Linked DNA regions of Homo sapiens. The protein of the gene in region 2 purifies or fractionates together with the protein of the main gene of each other region. This does not show direct contact. Each region holds a gene or a part of one and is shown on either strand. Other genes may lie near its edges. The genes, in order: SULT1C3, PPP1R2 and ISOC1.

Region 1 (3,658 bases), on a different chromosome or scaffold from region 2:
TGGGTTACAGCAGAAAAAACTCTCTTGTACCCATGTACCTGAAAACTCTCATGTCTACTAACTCTGGAAACTTGGAATTTAGTTGGGGTCTGATATGGTTCGCCTGTGTCCCCACCCATTATAAGGGGGAGTTCCCCTGCACAAGCTCTCTTTTCCTTTGCCTGCTGCCATTCATTGCCTTCCACCATGACTGTGAGGCTTCCCCAGATACGTGGAACTTTAAGTCTGTTAAACCTCGTTATTTTTTAAATTGCCCAGTCTCAGGTATGTCTTTATTAACAGCATGAAAAGGGACTAATACAATAAATTTGTACTAGCAGAGTGGGGTGCTACTGCAGATACCTGAAAATGTAAAATTGACTTTGGAACTGGGTAACAGGCAGAGATTGGAACAGAAGAAGACAGGAAAATGTGGGAAAGTTTGGAACTTTCTAGAGACTTGTTGAATGGCCTTGACAAAAATGCCAATAATGATATGGACAATGAAATCCAGGCTACTGTGGTCTCAGATGGAGATGAGAATCTTGTTGGGAACTGAAGTAAAGGTCACTCTTGCTATGTTTTAGCAAAGAGAATGGTGACATTTTTGCCCCTGCCCTAAAAATCTATGGAACTTTGAACTTGAGAGAGATGATTTATTGTATCTGGTGGAATAAATTTCTGAGCATCAAATAATTCCAGAGGTGACTTGGGTGCTGTTAAAGGCATTCAGTTTTATAAGAGAAGCAGAGCATAAAAGTTTGGAAAATTTGCAGCCTGACAATGCAATAGAAAAGAAAATCTCATTTTTGGGGAAGAAATTCAAGCCAGCTGCAGAAATTTGCATAAGTAATGAGGAGCTGATTGTTAATCTCCAAGACAATGAGAAAAATGTCTCCAGGGCTTGTCAGGAGTCTTCATGGCAGCCTCTCCTATCACAGGCCCGGAAGCCTGGGAGGAAAAAATGGTTTTGTGGACTAGGCCCAGGGTCCCCGCGTTGTGTGCAGCCTAGGGTCTTGTTACCCTGCTTCCTAGCTACTACAACCGTGTTACCCTGCTTCCTAGCTACTCCTTGATTGTCCCATTGGCCAGAAAATGGCCATTCAATTCCCGTGTTCCTTTAAGGCACCTATTCTGTCTCCTATTCAGACAGTGCTTAATTAGTAAAGGGATTCTAAGTCTGGAAGTTAACCAGAACCCTTTTTCTATGGGTAAATGCTTTAGCATAGGCCATCATAGCAGGATATAGAGTTCAATCTAGCATGCTCCCTCCCTTAAAGGGGCCTTGCCCAATTATGTGATTTTTCTTGAAATTCATTTTTTTTTTGGAAGGCACGCAGGCCACACAAGTCTAGGAGGTCAAAGGGAAATAAAAGGCAGAAGACTAAGACTGCCTGTGGACAGTATGACTAAGGCCCAAAAGTTTAGTTCCTCTGGGGCCATGACTTATAGGGTCATGTCTGCAGTCATGGGTGGCACATTTAAATGGGTGCCAGGATTCAGGAGCCAAAGACAGAAAATAGTTGAGGAATGCCCTCTACTGTTTTCTTCTCCATCCTTGATCACAATACCGAAAGGAAGGAGACTAAAAGGACACTTTTATTCTCACTTCTGTTTTTAGATGGGTAACAGATCATCTTCAACATGCACTCCCCTGGAGTGTATTTTGAAGCACTGGGACTCCTTCATCCTTGAAACTTTGAAGAAAAAGTGGCTTATTTTCTTTTGCACAAGAGTGTGGCCTTTGTACTAGACCTTTGCAAGTGTTGCAAAATCAACCCAGCTCTTTTAGCAATCATATCAGGCAGGCCCAAAGAGAATAATTCCCCAAAATTAGAAAAGCAAGGTCCTGGGAAACCACCTGAGGATTCCCTTATTTGGGGGTGCCTTCAAGTTCCCTTCTCATTGCAGGACTTTAGACAAGTAAAGGCAGACTTAGGCTGATTTTCTGACCACCCTGATAGCTATATAGAAGCTTTCCAAAATTTAACTCAGTTATTTGCCCTCTCATGGAGGAAAGTTATGCTGCTCCTAAGCCAAACCCTAACTGTAGCTAAAATAGGCAGCTCTGCAAGCAGATGAGAATTTTGGAAATAAGTAATATGTCTCCTATAGTGTGCCAAAATGGAAAAGAAAAAAATAGGGAAGGCAAAAATATAGGCAAAACACCATTCCCAATAGGAAGAGAGGCGATACCTCATAACAACTGTAATTGGAACTCCTTTCTGTAGTATTTTTTCTTCTTTTATGGTTTATAATGGTTCTATCTCTTTTATAATGTCCCCTTAACCTGGGAAAAGTTAATTTTCCAAACTTAAAAATGCTTGGCTTAGAGTTGAGCTAGGGGGAAGGGAACCCAGAAGTGTGATATGCTGGCAAAAGGGTAAAAATTTCTTACCAGTTGGGCTTTTGGCTTCTCTCTCCCTGTGTGAGCCAGTAAAGGGGATAATAAGGATCATTGTTTATATTCTCTGTGAATTTATAATTAATGAAAAAGGATTTTTGTTGATCTTAAGCTGTAGACAATTTGGTGTGCTTTGCATGTCTTTCTGTATGGTTCTGTCAAAGAAAAGATACCTTAGGTTAGGATGCAGGCCCAGGACCCCACAAGTCTGCGGTTCAAGCCAGCCCAACATAATAGTAACAAACTTGGCCACAGGCCTCCATCTTGTTTCATGTCTGGATACATGACCTGTAACTACATGGCAATAATATACTTTACTCTCAGCCTTTTTACAATGGTGGCTGTCTTCTTGTGCTAAGTCAGTTCCTGAGTAAGGGCCAAAAAATCATATAAGCCAGTTTGTCAATCGGGTGGTGCTAGCTGATTCATCAAGGGTAGAGTTTACAAAATATCTTAAGCACTGATCTTGAAAGCAGTTTAGGGAGGGTCAAAATCTCATAGTCTCTTGCTGCATGACTCCTAAGGGATGGTTTCAAGACTTCTGGCTAGTTTTTTGGTCTTGTTCCCAGGCAAGAGGGAAGTATATCTTTTTTTTTTTTTTTGAGATAGAGTCTTGCTCTGTCACCCAGCCTGGAGTGCAGTGGCTCAATCTCAGCTCACTGCAAGCTCCACCTCCCAGGTTCACGCTGTTCTCCTGCCTCAGCCTCCCAAGTAGCTGGGACTACAGGCACCCACCACCACTCCCGGCTAATTTTTTGTATTTTTAGTAGAGACAGGGTTTCACCGTGTTAGCCAGGGTGGTCTCGATCTCCTGACCTCGTGATCCACCTGCCTCGGCCTCCTAAAGTGCTGGGATTACAGGTGTGAGCCACCGCGCCCGGCCCTGGAAACATATCTTAAGAAGGAGCTGTTACCATCTTTGTTTTAAAGTATAAACTGTAAACCAGGTTCCTCCCAAAGTTGGTGAAGCCTGTCCCCAGGGATGGGCAAGGACAGCTCGGGCGCTGGAAACAAAATGGAGCTGTTTGGGTCAGATGTCTTTCACTGTCTCAGTTACAATTTTGCAATGATAGTTTCAAAAGCTGCTTACCCTCCTTTGAAAATGCCTTGCACACTCACGGTTAAATCATAACCTAATTAAGGCTCATTGGTTTCACCTGTAAGGTTACTTTTTGTAAAATTGAAAAGTCAAAAATCTTAACTGCTTGGCATGGCTAAAGTCGAGTAAAAAGGGATTTAAAAGGATTTTCTTAAAGAGTGCTCAGCTTAATTAAA
Region 2 (3,658 bases):
ACGACAAAGATCCTTCGTTCTAAAGTTTCTCAGCTTCTTCACGGTACAGGAGGTAGTCCCTACGCCACAACACTTCAAGTAGGTTTCTACCATATTTTCCTTCTTCCTCTTTTTTGTGAGTATGTGCTTTTCTTATATCTTTCCCCTCTACCCACAAGCTTGGATTTTCCTTTAAAAATAGTTGCAAATAAACTATACACAATTTTTTAACTCCTGAGAAGATTATATATTCACATGAATCAAAAAGTATAAAATGCAACAAGATAAGACATACTCCTTTTCTCCCAGCCTCCACGGGTAACCACTTTTACTTGTGGAAACAGAAAGCACGAGCAGGCAGCAATGCCTTAAATGTGTATGTGCTGAATGGCCTACGAGACCCTCTTCCATCCCTGTGAAGGGGAGGGCTGTCTCCATCTCCCTTCCTGTGACACTACTGCTCCTTTTGATTGATGGGACCTAATAAAGACCTTCACTCTGCATCTGATCATCTTGGTTCATTTGTTAAGTTGCATCACTGTCCAACAACACAAAAAGCATAAGCAACTGGGAAATTAGCTCTTTCAGCTACCCACTTTAAGACCGTCCAAACGCTCAATGACTTGAAATGCATTAATTTAAAAAGTATTTACTGAGTATCTACTCTGCACTAAAAAGTACAAAGAAAATAATACTTATAATTACTTTAAAGATGGTAATACTTCCCCATATTCTTGAAATCAGGGGTAAAAAACTATTACACAACAAAACACACAAGTAGTATCTGAATTATAAAGATGTTGCTTTCATTCTCCTCCCCTGTGTGTCCCCAAAATGAAAACCATTTGCTCATCTTCCAAATAATGGATTTATCTTAGCAAAAATTACTAGCACCATGATGAAAGCAGTAAAGGAAATAAACTACCTCGTTCTTCAGGTGAGAGGTCACTATCCTCCTCTCCACTGCTTTCTTGTTCCTGAATCCGATACTTTGGCTCCAAGCCTTCAGCTGCAGCTAATCTATGCAACAATCATGTACAAAGAAATTAACAGTGATGTTTTGATATTATTTAAGCGCCTTATTCAACTGTTGATTCTTACAAAAACATCTGAAGATCATTAATGTGCTAGCTATAACCTGATGAGGAAAATAAAAGGCAAGAGAGCAGAAACGTGCCGGGCATGGTGGTACACGCCTGTGGTCCTAGCTATTTGGAAGGCCGAGGTGGGAGCACTAGTTAAACCCAGGAGTTTGAGGTTGCAATGAGCTTTGATTGCGCCTCTGCACTCCAGCCTGAGTGATAGAACAAGGCCCTGTCTCAAAAAAAAAAAAAGAATAAAAAGAGTAGAAATGGGCATAGACAAGAACAGTGGAATGGGTGCTAGAAATCAGTAAGTAGCAAAGGAAGAGTGCTTTTATGAATTAACTTATTTTTGCCTTTCTCACTGCTACCTTTAAAAACAGGAAGCAGGGGCCAGGCGCGGTGGTTCACCCCTGTAATCCCAGAACTTTAGGAGGCTGAAACCAGCGGATCTCTTGAGGTCAAGAGTTCGAGACCAGCCTGGCCAATATGGCAAAACACTGTCTCTACTAAAAATACAAAAATTAGCCAGGCTTGGTGGCATGGGCCTGTAATCCCAGCTACTACTGGGGAGGCTGAGGCACGAGAATTGCTTGAACTTGGGAGGTGGAGGTTGCAGTGAGTTGAGATCACACCACTGCACTCCACCCTGAATGACAGAGCGAGACTCTGTCTCAGAAAACAAATAAAACCCCCCACAGGGAAGTGACACATTTCAGTATCCCAAGTGCAGGTACGCTGGTCTTCCTGCCACCTACATACCTTGATTTTAATCAAGAGACAAGACTATAAAAGTTGGTGACTCAGAAGGTGAAAAAAGGGGGAAAAAAGGAAAAAAAAGTCGGCATAAAACATGTTGATCAACAGCCTTTTCTTCCCGCTCATACAGGGACAGCCACGCAGGCTGCTTTCAACTCTGCACGATTATAAACAGCCTAAGTGAAAATGTGCTCCGGTCATTAGTACTTACTTCCTGGCTAAGATGTCTGGCGCCATGGCTTCAGTGGCCTCGGTGTCACTACAGGCATCTTCATCATCCCCCATCATACTAGTATGACAAGCACATTGTAATTAATACCTGAAACATACATTTTCAGCCACAAAAACAAGGGAGAAAAACAATTCCATCAACCTACTTAACATATCAATATATTTATAGCTCTGTTGATATCTTTGAGGTTTAACTTTATATAGTTCCTATTCAATACAAATACTTAAAAGTACAGCACCCAATCAAGAAAAGACTCCAAATGATTAAAAAAAACACATAAATACAGTCTGCCTGCCATATCCACAGGATCCACATCCATGAATTCAACCGTGGATTGAAAATAGCCAGAGAAAAGTAAAATTTCCTCTGTACTAAACATGTAGACTTTTTTCTTATCATTATTCCCTAAATGATACAGTGTGTAACAACTATTTGCACAGTATTTACATTTTATTAGGTAATATAACTAACACAGAGATGATTTAACACATACAGGAGGATGTGCATAATTATATACATCTACAATGCCATTTTATATCAGAGACTTGAGTGTCTGAGGATTTCGGTATCTGAGGGAGGTCCTGAAACCTCCATGGATAATGAGGAATAACTGTACTGAAAACGTAAATGATCTGGAAAAAAAAATACTACAAAGTTCCAATTATTCCATCCAGTGGGAAGGAACAAGTAATGCAAAGTAAATCACTGTCTGGTTTTAGAACATGTATTTCTACATCAATCTTAAGATAGAGACAAAAGATCTACGCAGACACAAGACTGAGTAAAGTAACAAAATTCGATCCCAAAGATCTAATTTCGGAAGTTTACAAGTGATTTAGCTTTCTCACTCTACCCTCTAATGAAAAATTTGCTCCCCACTTCAATGCAAAAATGGGCAACCTTAATTCTTAAGCCACTGCAAAGTATATAAAGCAGAACTCAGCTATTTATAAAATACTGCCAGTTTATACATTTCCTGGTTAATTAAGGTGACAAGTAAGTCTATAGTTTAGATGACGTTCTTTTTTCTAAGGGAAGTTGAAATTGATCTATGTTATTGAGTTTAATCAAGCAAAGTAAGGTAAAATAAACATTTTGTTAATTTATAGAATCGTTCTATAGAAAATTCTAGTTGTAAAATTTACTGAATTATGTTTATATATGTACATGTATACAGAAGCAATAACTTCTTGTATACTAACTGTGAGATTCTTAGATAATAAGACATGATGTTTCTATAAAAAGCATCTTCACTTAAATAAAATTTTTTTTTTTTTTGAGACAGGGTCTCATTCTGTCACCCAGGAGTACAGTGGCACCATCACGGCTCACTACAGCCTCAATTTCCCGGGCTCAAGTGATACTCCCACCTAAGCCTCTTGTGTAGCTGGGACTACAGGCATGTGCTACCATTCCTGGCTTAATTCTTTTTATTTTTTGTAGAGACGGGGTCTCTCTATGTTGCCCAGGCTCATCTCCAATTCCTGAGCTCAAGCAATCCTCCCACCTCAGCCTCCTAAAGTGCTGGGATTACAAGGATGAGCTACCATGGCTGGCCAAATGAAACTCTCAAAAAGAAAAAAGAAAGTCATGGAAAGAAATGATA
Region 3 (2,938 bases), on a different chromosome or scaffold from region 2:
CGAAGCTGACGTCACAGAATTAGTTTCACCTGTGAAAAGGCTTCACTGTACTGGTATTTCACTGAGCCCTGAAAGGTTTGGGTGCAGTGGAGGAAAACAGTTGTCTGGAGTTAAATTCTCGCTATTTCAAATATGGTCCTTTCTGAACAGCACTGGTGGAAAATGCCCAATTTTTGGAAATGCGAAATGTCACCTTGGAAATGCAAAATGTCACCTCAGGCTGCACAACAGACCTACTGAGTCAGCATCAGCATTTTAACAAGATCCTCAAATAATTTGCATTCATATTAAAGTTTGAGAAGCACTAGGTTAAATTTAATAAAAACTTTTTAAAGGTGCAGAAATCTTTGATTCTTCTTTTTTGACACACAAATGGTTGGAAAAAAGTATTTAAACACACCAGGTTGCTATTTGTTACCACTGCCAATAGGAAAAATAAAAAAAATCTGCTCTTAATGAAGAAGGCCTTTCACCCTTTAGTAAAATCCATCTGCCCCTACGTACAAAGGATTTTCCTTCTTTGAAAACTCCCATGAGTTGAAAGATTATAAATGTCAAGATTTTATTACCTTAAATAAATATTAGAATCCCTGGAAGAATACTCATAGAGCCATCTTGTGGAGGACAAAATAATTTCAATCACAATACATTTTCTTTAATTACTTTAATATAAAAGACAGCAGTTTCACATTTCACATATTTGAAAAACATTTCAAAACCCTCTAACAAGTATTTAATGAAAATAAATTTATCGAAGAGAAACAATGACCACAAAATTAATACTACCAAATCATTACTGAGACTTTTTGCATTACAATATTTGGAGAGTAGGTGAAGAAAATATAGAACAGAACATGAACATTTTAAAATGATATTCCACCCAAGCTTTATCTTTTTGCTAAATCTTGTGGACACTAGAATATATATTCAAGATGTTGGTAAAGATATTCAGCAAGCCATACTTCAAAGATGTTAAAACAGCCCTCCACCAATAATATGGCATTGCAAACCCTTCTATCCCATCCCTTTTCAGTTAAAAGAGAGAATATTAACAGAGATTTAGTAATAGTGACCAAAATAAGAAATCAGTATAGTCAAGAAAGATATGTAATTATTCAACATCATTTGGTACGGATAGATCAATGCAACTCACTAAGTGGACAACATTGTGAGGGGAGTGGGTAACATGATTCAGAGTCCTGTGGGTAAATTCATATGCAATAATCTTATTCCAATCAATCTGTAAAGTAAAAGCACTACATCCACATTAACATTATAACATCTTACAGTAATATAAAAGCCAAATCATTGTTGGTACGTCATTTTCTTTAAAGTGAACAATTTAAGAAAACTTCACAAGAGTCTGCACTTTGGAAAGATACGATCAGAGTACACAGTAGAGACAAAACAGGCATCTTCATTGTAATTTTTTTTAATAAATAAAAGCACATTAACAAAAAAGGAAGGTAAGCAGCACCGGAAGCCTTTGACGTTTGTAACTAAATGCTGGTACTCAAATGGTCTAGCTGGTTAAGTTTCACTAGGAGGCGCAAAAAAGGAGCCGTTTTTGACTTAACATTTTAATTCTAGTAGAGATAAGAAGAGCTTGTGTGGGCTTACAGTCCTTCACCTGACTGTCCTTCACCAGTGAGTAGCATACCAGTTCTTCAAATGTCCTATACTTTGGAAAGCAGACCCGACTCTGGAGCACTCGCCTTAATTAGATTCTGAATTTCCTTGAATTTTGGATGGTCCTTATCAGCTACCAGCTGAAGCAGAACAGCCTCACTCGTGGTCACTATGATCCCGGTTCGAGCGAGACGCTTGAACAAAAAGATAAAGGCAAATCAAGAAATAAGCATGAGAATGAACACTATTTCAGAAGAGTAACACTATGCTGGGATGCAATAATTAGTGTCCTCTACTGAAACCGTGGTTCCCAGCCATACCATCAAGTTCAGTGATGGGGATGGATTTCAAGACCAGGCATACCACAAAGTCAATATGATTATTCTTAATATTAGTAAAATGGAGTAGAACGAGTAAAAGGGAACAGGTAGCCAAAGTTATGACATATATGTGCCCAGAACAGGAAAGTCATCAAGGCAAATGACTGTAAAACATGAGATGAGAGAGAGAAAAGGAATGGTTGTTACTACGTGCCCATCACTGAACATCTGGACATTTAGTTGCTGCTATTTCCTGAACACTCCTGGCAGGTTTGTGCTTCATGTCTTACTCATTCATTGACTCAAATGAGGGCTGCTTGTGACTTCTAAATTTATTAAACTTTTATTTCTATTTCTACTACTGAGATTTTTTAAAAGGTGCCTCTGTCCACTTTTCCCCCTCTGTAGTTTAACTGATAATACATGAGATCGTGATGCATATTAATACTTATGCCTGGCACCCCTGGCATTTTGTAGCTCTTCATGTTTTAAAAATCGAGGGGAGCGTAATATTTTAAAGCTCCATTAGCTGTACTACAGATATAATTGTAGCTGCTAGAACATTACATTAGTAATTTACTATCAAATTTCATATAAATTGTTTAATTGGATTAAAACTACTATAAGAATTAAAATGATGGTTCTTAATTTCTTTTTACTGCACCCAAACATCTGACCTATAGCATATGAGTCCTTCCTATAATTAACAGTTCCCTTGTCTAGAAATGACTGGTGCTAAAAGAGCTCTCTCTGTGTCAGGAGACTCCCTGGATGATAAGAGAACCACCACTACTGCTGCCATCATGAACATTTTAATACCACTAAACAAGAGTGTAAAATTCAAGGTTGTGTAAAGTTTCACTGACAGGTCAAAGAATATCCTTGCCAAACTGCCCCAGTGGAATCATAATACTAAGGACAGAAAGCTCAAGGAGGAAAAGAGAGACAGAAAGGAGAAGGCAAAGGGGAAAGAAGGGAAGGAAGAGAGC

The links.
Region 1: the proteins of PPP1R2 (region 2) and SULT1C3 fractionate together in Homo sapiens (co-fractionation; one large-scale study listed by BioGRID). This does not show direct contact.
Region 3: the proteins of PPP1R2 (region 2) and ISOC1 fractionate together in Homo sapiens (co-fractionation; one large-scale study listed by BioGRID). This does not show direct contact.

The regions. Positions count from the first base shown.
Region 1 is NC_000002.12:108,242,958-108,246,615, reverse strand, and holds part of SULT1C3 (sulfotransferase 1C3), read right to left. Parts: intron 1-3,658.
Region 2 is NC_000003.12:195,522,788-195,526,445, forward strand, and holds part of PPP1R2 (protein phosphatase inhibitor 2), read right to left. Parts: intron 2,110-3,658; coding exon 2,032-2,109; intron 1,000-2,031; coding exon 905-999; coding exon of another isoform or gene 902-904; intron 1-901. UniProt on the Homo sapiens protein: Inhibitor of protein-phosphatase 1.
Region 3 is NC_000005.10:129,111,740-129,114,677, reverse strand, and holds the end of ISOC1 (isochorismatase domain-containing protein 1), read right to left. Parts: intron 1,824-2,938; coding exon 1,677-1,823; 3' UTR 650-1,676; downstream 1-649.